Linked DNA regions of Homo sapiens: region 2 is linked to region 1. Evidence: fine-mapped expression QTL. Tissue or cell type: aorta. Region 1 holds a variant in brackets; the other region holds the start of a gene. All regions are shown on one strand. Distances are from middle to middle.

Region 1 (5,227 bases):
AGAACAATCATGCTGGCACGGGCGTACGTGTAAGTTTTAATGTCTGGTAACCATTTTGGTGTGTAGTTAGCAAGCAATGGTCTGTGCTATGGGATGTGCATCCACAAGGATGAATGCATTAGAGTTTCTGTCTCTCTGGCCTAGCAGGGGAAACAGATGTATAAACAATGACTGCTGTGCAAAATGATAGGAGCTTTGATGAAGGCATGCGTGCCATCAAGAGACCCTCTGTGAACCACGCACTGTGAAAAGCAGTGGGGATAAGAAAATGAAAAATCTTGGCCCTTGCTCTTAAATAGCATTGAGAGACAGATGCACAGGCAAGTAAAGACAAGATAATATTTGTTCCAATTGAGGTGAGGGTGAAGCCTGGGAGTTGAGGAGAAACACATTCACGTCTACTCAACAGCACCTGGGGAGACTGAGTAGCAGGGCTGGCATTTCAGTAGGGCTGAAAGGATGAGACGTTTCTGCACGGTGAGTGCTTGTGCACGTGCAAACACTTGACGTCTCTGGAGAGAGGGGATTATTTAGGGGGCATGAGCTTTGTCATTGGGGCCCTTCCTGGGATAGTGGAGATCTGGCAGGGCTGATAGCTGACAAATAGGTCTTGAAGGGCCCTGTCTGTCATACAAAGGAGTTTATGTTTAAGACAGCACAGAGGGAGGAACATTGACTAAGTGTTTAAGGAAGCAGAGGACATGATTGCATTTCAGTATCCAGGACAATCTACTCTCCATTTTCCCTTATAATGAACTATTAGGTTTATGTCAAGTGGAGCAGGGAGGACGTGAACAGTCTAGAGAGAGAGATGTGAAGGCTTTCCTGAGGACTGTAGCCCTGGGCAAGGGAAGGGGTGGGGGATTGAAGAGATGGGAAGGAGACAATGAGGGGATCCGGGCTGGTGGCTGGCTGGATGTGTCTGGTGAGGAGAGGGCTGAGCGACAAGGGTGCCCAACTGTCTGGGTGCATGGTGGAACCGTTCTTGAGACAGGGAACACATGATGAGCTATGCAATGGTCAAGAAAATTAATGCATCCTGCTTTTGAGTCCTTATGGGGTACAAGCTAATTAGCCAGCAGTTAGATCTATTCATCCAAGCATGGCAAGGAAGCCTTGGATTCAAATGCTGTCACCCAGAGAGAATGTATAGTGAGCAAAGAGAGGCAAGGGCCACTGAGGAGCATCTGCCTTTCGGGATGGACACAGGGATGGGGCCTTCCGCAGGTTTCAAGGGGAATGGAAGAGAGGAAGAAGGAGGTGGGAGGGTGGATTCTGGAAACTGAGTGAGGGTGGGAGAGAACATCAAGGAGAAGAATGTGGCCAGCAGTGTCCAGTATTCGGCGGTCCTTCCTAATGAGATCACGGTTGTGTTTCTCGTGACTGAGTATGATTCTGCAGCTTGGTTTTCATAAACTCCTGATCTTTCATAGGTATGCGTGTACCACTGTCACGCCGTCTCATTTTCTTGGACACCTATGTCGTTTCTACTTTTTCACTCCACAGTGATGGCACACTTTTATCACAACATAGCGATGAGTAACATTTGCATAGCTATTTACCCAGTTCTCTTTTTGTTACTTCAGGACAAATTGCAAGAAATGAAATATGTGTGTCCAAGATGGCTCATGTTTTAAAGTCTTTTGGGATGCATCATCAAACTGCCCGCTAGAGAAGCTACACCAACTTATACGCCCACTAATGGTCTTTTATTGTATTGTATTGTATTTTATATTTTGTTTTTGTTTTTGAAACAGAGTCTCACCCTGCCATCCAGGCTAGAGTGCAGTGGTGTGATCTCAGCTCACTGCAACCTCTGCCTCCCAGGTTCAAGTGATTCTCGTGCCTCAGATTCCCGAGTAGCTGAGATTACAGATGCCCACCAGCATGCCCGGCTAATTTTTTGTATTTTTAGTAGAGACAGGGTTTTGCCATATTGGCCAGGCTGGTCGGTCTGGAACTCCTGGCCTCAGGTGATCCACCCACCTTAGCTTCCCAAAGTGCTGGGAATACAGCCGTGAGCCAATGCACCCAACCCACTAATGGTCTTTTAAATGTCTCATCTCTCATCTAAAAATATGTTCATTTTTACTAAATCTTTGTTGCTAATTTGATTTGTGAAATTGATGTTGCATTATTTTGATTGGTTAAAATTACTAGTGAAGTTAAAATTTTAAACAATTTATTCTAAACAACAACAGTGAAAACAAACAAACCAACCAACCAAACTAACAGCAACAGAAACAATAGCTCCTCTGGGATGGAGGGGATTGAGGGATTGAGCTCCATGCCTGGCTCACAGTGTCACGTTTAATTATTCCCACATTGATGGGAGCTTTGCATTTTGTAGATGGGCAACAGAGGCTCAGAGAGGTTTTGTAATTGCTCTTAGTCACACAGCTGCTTTTGAATTCAACCCAGTCTGAAAGTCAGACAAAGAGCTTGGGCCCCCTCTTTTTTTTTGTCTTTTCTTTTTCTTTTTCTTTTTTTTTTTTTTTTTTGAGATGGAGTCCCACTCTGTCACCCAGGCTGGAGTACAGTGGCGCAATCTAGGCTCACCACAACCCCTCCTCCCGGGTTCAAGCAATTCTCC[C/T]GCCTCAGCCTCCCGAGTAGCTGGGATTACAGTCACCTGCCACCATGCCTAGCTAATTTTTGTATTTTTAGTAGAGACGAGGTTTCATCATGCTGGCTAGGCTGGTCTGGAACTCCTGACCTCAGGTGATCCACCAGCCTCGGCCTCCCAAAGTGCTGGGATTACAGGTGTGAGCCACCGTGCCCAGACTGTTTTTCTTTTGGCCTATTTATTGTTCTACTTTAAATATTTCTTTACTGATTGAATTACTTTCACAAATATTGCTAATTTTAAAGTATTTATCATTTTCTTTTTATTTATATGGTTTTAAATTTTTCTGAACTCATACCTTTTAATTTTTTTTTTTCCTTACAAAGTTCATCTCTGCTGCTGTGCTTATAAATGCCATCTTTAATTCCAGGTTAAAAAACACTAGAGTGAATGCGGTTTGGGCGTCTGCTCAGCCCCTGGTTCCCCTTCTCTGAGAATGGCCCCCTGACATCCCGCCCCACTTCCCTAATAATGTGGGCTCCAGGAGCCAGGTTTTGCTCAATGAACCACAGCAGAGGACAACATCCGAGGGTTAACTCTGCTTTCTAGGAGCAAACTGAATCTCAATAGTTATATTAGGCAGTCGGGCTTAGGAGTGGCTGACGCTCAGAGATGTCAGGCTGTGACTCATACATGGATATCACAACCTGAAATTGAGAGGCAGCTCACCAGGGTTCCGCTGCCAGGGAAACCTCAGGTGGGGAGCTGAGGACCCAGGGCTCTCAGCACTCAGGTCATCCTTGGGTTCAAAAACCAGTGGGCCAACCGCAGCTCTAAGTGGCCTGCCAAGGAGAAAAAGAGAGGCTGCCAAATATCCCAAACATCAGGGCGCAGCACCACCATGGCGTAACAGCGCCCCTCACGGCGGGATGCCCAGACAGGAGCGTTTGCCCCTCTTACCTTGTGAGGGGCGTGGGAGAAGTGGCCATTGGTGTCCACCCAAGAGTTTAGGCTTCTTTTCTTTTTGTTAGGGTCTCGAAGAGTGCCTTATTTGGTTGAAACATGCAGGGACTAGGAGATCTAATAAGGCTGCTTGTGAGTTATACAAGCAGCCCAGAAGCTGTGCAGCAGAAGTCCTGGACTTACTGTGAGGTTGATGAAAAGGGAAGGGGAAGCGAGAGCAAAGCCATCTTCATTTCCCAAAACACTCCAGGTCTTATTCAGTCCCATGCGGGCCTTTAGTAGAAAGAGCAATGATAGTATATCATAAATTATAATGAATTCACTTTCTACATCATTTAGGTTGAAACCTTTTCTGTTACTTATAACCACATAGTAAACCATAAGAAATTGTCACCCATATTTTCTCCTAGTATTTTTAAATTTAAATTTTATTTAATTTTAAATTTAAATATCTGAGATGTGGATTTTTTTGGAGGGAGGTTTAATGTAGGAATTTTATTTTTTTTCCAAATTATCAATCAATTGTCCCAGCACCATCTGTTGGTATACTATCATATCATTTTGCTATAAATAGTATTTTGATATTAATTTCCAACATTTGTAGCTCTTATTTTTCTTATTTTATTAAACTTCCTAGTACTTACACATCATGGTGTGGTATTAAGCATTTCTATCTTCACTGAGAATGTCTCATTCATTGTTTTCTGGTATTAGGTTCTGAATTTAGACGTTAAGCAATCATGTTATATACTATGTTATATATATTTATGTTAAATATTTTTCTCTTTTAATGTATTGTTTTTTACAATTAGGAATAAATGTTGAATTTTGTCAAAAGTATTTTTTTTAGATTAGAAGTTCAGAAATGTTCTTCTTTATTTCTTTGACAATTTATTCTAACCTGTTCCTAACTTCTCCTCAAGGCAGAACAATCCTGCTGTGCAATTATTGTTTTGAAATATCTAGTGGGTCAGGCTAAGGCTACACTTCACGTGAGACCACGATATTGCATGATAAGTATGAAACATTCTCTCATTTGACTTTCTGGCAAGTTCGTGAAGAGAGTCACACTTGTCAAAATGCTCCAGGGATTTAATCATCTTTCCAAGGCCTCTCTTAATCCCTTAGATGTTTTGGGATTAAGTCTTGTTGCGAGTCACTGATAATGTCACCAATTTTGTTAACTTTTCCCTTTTCAGTGATAACTGTTCTACCAGACTTTGTGATTCCAGAAGTCCTCTAGTATGACTGTCACCTGCTACACAAAATCTTACATTCTTTGAAGAAGTTTGCAGTTAATTTGCATTGTATTTCTGTTGTATTAATAGCCTCCTCCAATCAGGAAGAGAATGGCTGCGCCTGACATGGTTTGACTGTGTTATGGCAGCTGCAGTGTTAAGCAGGGAGAGGGGAAGGCATGGAGGCTAATTTGGCAAGTGGTCAGCTCTTCAGTGAATGTTTTCTGGTTGAGAACAATTTTTGCTTCCCCCTGCCAACTGCTTGCTGAGAACACTCTGATACTTAGAGTTCACTCAGAAATGAGGAGGGAATTGTGTGTTTTTCGGTAGCAATTGGTATAAATATTTATACAAGGAGAGACCAGGAGAAACACCACTATGCTAAGAAGGACGCTGAATATTAATAGATGAATGGATAAACAAAATGTGGTCTATCCACACGGTGGAGTATTATTCAGCCTTA
Region 2 (5,227 bases), 100 kb before region 1:
CATTTAGAGAATGATGACAAGGAAAAACATCTGTACATGTTCAGTATATATGCAATCATCTACTTTAAAAAGCATTTTTGAACCACAGTTGGTTAAATCCATGGATGCAGAACCCATGGATACGAGGTCGACTGTAATAGAAACTTTCAATACCAAGGAATGCATCTGCCTAGCGATTTTGCGAAAAAGAGTGTATTTGTATTTGAAAGAAACCGTGGAGTGGAAACACCTAAAACGTGCTTGTTCAGTTAACCTCAGTTTGCTGAGCTGCTTGGAGCATGGGGTTGTAATCAAAGATTGTCTTCTTCGCAGCAGACAATGTTCTGGGAGAAATAGTCCTCCTTAGTGCTGAAGTTGCAGACTCTAACCAAGGGGGTGGCAGCAAGTATCCCCGGTCTCTGTAGGGGCTTGAGTCAACGCCTGCACTGTGCAGAGAGGATGAGGGCAGAGAATTGGATGCCGCTGGAGGGGCGTGTTGTCCTTCTACATGTCATGCAGGCAGCGCGGTTCTATACTCGGAGCCTCTGCTCAGCGTGTCTTCACCTAAGAACCCCATAATTCAGGTTCCATCCTTGTTCCCTACTCCAGTGCTCTGCAAGTGAGCCCTTTGGTTTAGAGATGGGTTGGGCTTCTTTATGGGAGAGGAAGGGAGCCCTGGAGCTGCAGAGGGGAGCAGGCATTCTCTCTGGGGTGCTGTCTCCTTTCTTCCCTAAATTGGAGGGAGATAATCCATGGAAAGGAGTTAATGATTTCTTTGCTCTTCAAACTTGGTTTGGAAGGATCTCTCAGTCAAAAAGAACCTTTCGGATGTCTCTTGATATTTCACATTAATGGACTTTTCATAAGGACCACATGATGGGAGAGCAGTGAGAAGTTTGGGGATGGCCAAAGCTGGGTTGTCATTTGAGCTCTGTTACTAACCCAGACTGGACAATGACGATGTCACTTACTCTCTCGGAACTTCTTTTCTTTTCTTCTTTTCTTTTCTTTTTTTCTTTTTTCTCTTCTCTTCTCTTCTCTTCTCTTCTCTTCTCTTCTTTTCTTTTCATTTCTTTTCTTTCTTTCCTTTTTCTCTTTTTTGGAGTCTCACTCTGTTGCCCAGGCTAGAGTGCAGTGGCGCCATCTCGGCTCACTGCAACCTCTGCCTCCTGGGTTCAAGCAATTGTCCTGCCTCAGCCTCCCAAATAGCTGGGACTACAAGCGCCTGCCACCATGCCTGGCTAATTTTTATATTTTTAGTAGAGATTTAGTAGGGGTTTCACCATGTTGGCCAGGCTGGTCTCCAACTCCTGACCTTGTGATCTGCCTGCCTTAGCCTCCCGAAGTGCTGAGATTACAGGCATAAGCCACCGTGCCCAGCCTGTTTCTTTCATCTGTAAAATGGGACCACAATTTCACCTAATAAAAGAAGACATCTTTCTATTTAAAAGGGCTTAGGGTGTTGATGTTTGTGATAAAGGAGAGAATGTATATTGAAGTGTTTTGAAATGTGCAAAGCTTTCTAGAAACAGAAGTTCTTACTCAAGTATTTTCCCGAAGCTTTGGCAAGATAACCATTTTTATTACCCCGTCTGTGCCTAGAATGGGCCTATAAGCGCCACAATCAGAATCATTAGATATAGAAATTAAGAGAAATGTAGCCTCCTTTTTTTTGCCGGTGAACAGAGCTTTGGTTAACAGAAAACCAAGGCGATTTTAATTGCTGGTTTTTCTATTTGAAGGGGGAAGTTATTAGTAGAAGTCTCAATTCAGAAACTTCAAGAAGAAATGGGAGGGTGTGGTGAGGGTAAGCGGGGGACTGCATTTCCTGTTTTCCTTTCAGATGGTGTTGGAAAACATTGCAGGAAAACCATGGATACCCACGAAGAAATTCCAAAATTTATTCTTTTTGACGCCAAGGGCCCAGCCCAAAAGGTGACGAGTAGGAGTGGTCAATTTTTTTTTTTAAGAGTTGGGGCTTGCAGGAGTCCAGCTAAACGCTTGTAGGGTGAAGACAGAATTCAGAGGGTGACATCAGCCTGAGCGGGGGCCAGAAGAAACAGAGTGGAGGAGTCTGGTTTCATTTACAGTTTTGGGTCAGTTCTGCAGTGAGGAGGGGGAGAGGAGGGGTCCGGGAGGGAGGAGGAGGAGGAGGAGGAGCTGGAGGAAGCCCTGACTGGTATCCCTGGCCCCAGTCCAGTTTGGAGCTCAGTCTTCCACCAAAGGCCGTTCAGTTCTCCTGGGCTCCAGCCTCCTGCAAGGACTGCAAGAGTTTTCCTCCGCAGCTCTGAGTCTCCACTTTTTTGGTGGAGAAAGGCTGCAAAAAGAAAAAGAGACGCAGTGAGTGGGAAAAGTATGCATCCTATTCAAACCTAATTGAATCGAGGAGCCCAGGGACACACGCCTTCAGGTTTGCTCAGGGGTAAGTGTGATTTCTCTTCTGTTTTTCCAGGTTTGGGGCTAGAAGGAAATGCTCTTAACCTGAAGTGATCCTTTCTAGGTAGCGTTAGTGGCTCTTACGTTCATGCTGATCGCCAGTTTTCTGTACATGTTTTAGGTCTCTGGAAGATTCCGCTGATTTTTCTTTCTCACTTTATGGCAATGGGATTTCCTTAAATTGGTTAAGGTCATGATTGCCTAAGAGTGTGAGCACTTTTCCACCGCGTGTCTGTGGCTGCTACACGCGCCCTGTGCATTCCGGGCGGCAGTGTGTTTCGGCCCATGATTTATTTAAGTTACTGCCGCCTTCTAAAACCCATTCGGGATCCGCTTTGTTTGCAGAAGCGTCTTTGCTGAGGACTAGCATAGCTCCCTGCCGGGCGGCTCCGCTGGGAGATGTTCTCTGAGCTCTCTGGGTGGTGACACTAGGTCAGGGTGCAACAACCTGCATGGGTTTTCTGCCCAGGGCCGCCCATGGGAAGGTCCTGGTGGAGCACATTTGCTGCTTTCACAAGATTGGAGTAACTCTGGTGCTCAGGATCAGGGCCAAGTAAAGGGTCGCTCAGTCATTGCCGTCAAGCTTTCGTCTTTCCAGGAACCTGAAGTCTCTATTGGAGACTTTGTCCCTTGGGGTTGCTTAAAGGAGTTGCAGGGGTCAGAGGAGAAGAAGGAATTGGGCATTTGGGCAGCATGCTGAGTGTCTAAGGCAGGGCCCCTGGGGCTGCAGGGCCAGCCCATGCTGCACAGAGGTGAGGCCAGTGCCGAGCTGGGAGGCCCCGAGGGCTGTTCTCTGGCCCGGAGGATGCAGGGTGGGGCTCGGGCCCTCTCTTGCTGAGGATGGACACGTTCGCTGACAGTGGCCAGCCTGTTTGGGGAACCTGTTTCAAGGGGCCTACTATGTTGGATAATGAACGGGTATTGAAGTATGGGTGGGGTCACTGGGAGGGACTAGGGAGTGGTTAAAGAAAAATCTGCTTCCACAGGAAGCCCCAGGAGCCAGTTTCGAGGCCGGTGCAGACCCCAGGAGCAAACCCCTCTGAGCACAGGGGAGTCTGCTGTGCTGGATGGGGAGGCAGGGCTGTGGCCCCGGCTGACTGGCTTCTCTCCCCACATACAGCTCACCCCGGCGAGGACCACAGGGTGCTAGAGCTGCAGGGTGCTCAGAGCTCACGGGGATGGTGGATGCTCAACCTGGGATCCCCCAGCTCCCCAGGGTCCCATTCTTAATGCTGTAAAAAACAACCGAAATGGCTTTAAAATCAAAGTTACATTGCTCCTAAGCAAAACTATATTGAAAACTGAGTGGGTGGCCGTTGATGACATTACTGGGACTTCTGAGGTTTTTGTTGGGCTAAAGATAATGGAAGAGATTTTTGGTCAGAAGCCACTGATGCAGTAGTTTCCTGGTTTTCAAAATGAGCAACCAGGGGCTCTGAGATGCGGAATTCCTTGCCCAGGCCAGGGAGCGAGTGCCTGAGATGGCAGTGAAATCCTTCCCCATTGAAGGAGAGCAGACAAGCCAGTGACGGAGGATCCCAAATAACTCACATCTCGTTGGGAAAACTGCTTTGGGCTCACTAAGACTCTACCAATGAACCGAGAAAGAAGGGAGGTGGACCGTGGGGCGGGGGCATCGGTTCCGTGACCGGAATACCGGGGCTGGCCGCCCTGCTCAGGCCACCTCCTGGGGGTGGAGGGCGCTGAAGGAGGGGACCTGTATGCTCTTCTTTCTGAAGTGGGCTTGTAGCTGAGGATGAAAGCCTGGGTGGGGAGGCGTGGCTTTTACAAAGATCAGGATGTAGGAACAGCTGCCTGTCTGGACTTCTTTGTTTAGGGGGTTTCTTGCTACCCAGAGGTTTAGTTCTCTCCTTTCCTCACTCATGGTCGAGAGAAGCCAGGAAGCAGACACTGAGTGGAGCAGAGGGCTTGGGAAGGAATTCCATGTTGGGGTGAAGTGAGGCTGTCCTGGCTTTTCCTATCCAGGCATTGGAGGGTGTGGCTACAGCACCTTTCTGGGAGGTGGCTGGGGAAGCCTCTAGAATGTTAGCCCTTGGCCCCGCTCTTTCCCTGCTTGGCAGGGAGCGTGTTCCACCCCACTATAGTTGTGGCCCACAGGTGAGGGGACATGTGGCAAATGTCCAAACCTGGGGTCTGAATGATATTTTTGATACGAGGTAGGCACCTTTCTGAAAAATTGTCTTTACTTCACACTTCATTTTATTTCTAAAGCATTCAGGACTCAGCAAATTGCACTGACTTTATCATCAGTGCCTTTTGTGATTTCCTATCCTAGAACTTAATACGTCCCCGATGAGAAAGTAGGAAGAAGCTCCTCTCTTCAGTCGATTGTTGATTTATGGTTCCAATGAGGCTGCTCATCCTGACCTTAGTTTCAGGAACGGAACCCATAGACCTGGATGCCTAAAGCCAGCTTGAAACAAGACCGCCTTCTTTGGAAGCTTTGGAAGCTGGCAGTGACTTTTTGCCAGCGAGGTTTCATTTGTTTCCTTGCTCAGAGTGTTCAGACAACTGGATCAAGCGTAGTCTTCACCAGCGGTTGATATCACCTCCCACTTATATGTGAAATTCCATGTTTAGGACTTAAAATTCACCGGCAAGTCGTGAATACTATTGCGTGACACTTCCTTGCAGGCGCAGTAACAGCTTTAGCAAAAATTTTTATTTGAAAGTTCAGTTTTGTCACTGCTCTTTTTGGAAGAAGCTGAAAATCTGCTATCTCTTGGGGGAAGGATTGCAGGCGGTTTCCATCTGACAGGGATGTTGTGTACCAGGCAGCTTTTCCACCCTG

Alleles and levels. Positions count from the first base shown, and alleles are read on the strand shown. Sizes are in standard deviations (SD) of each study's normalised expression.
For the expression in aorta of the gene that starts at base 2,190 in region 2, allele T in region 1 goes with a lower level than allele C (small effect, 0.18 SD a copy in GTEx).

The links. PIP is the estimated chance that this variant, and not a neighbour inherited with it, causes the effect.
Region 2: COL6A3 starts here. The variant in region 1 is fine-mapped to the expression of COL6A3 in aorta (GTEx, PIP 0.95).

Annotation. Positions count from the first base shown.
Region 1 is chr2:237,308,954-237,314,180 of GRCh38, reverse strand. No RefSeq gene overlaps it. Among named protein-coding and RNA genes, the nearest start is that of COL6A3, 100 kb to the left of the region's middle. RefSeq lists an enhancer at 1-1,004. The variant C/T (reference allele first, on the strand shown) is at 2,594.
Region 2 is chr2:237,411,127-237,416,353 of GRCh38, reverse strand. COL6A3 (collagen type VI alpha 3 chain) reads left to right here and starts at 2,190. Exons shown (of 44, transcript NM_004369.4): 1 at 2,190-2,401.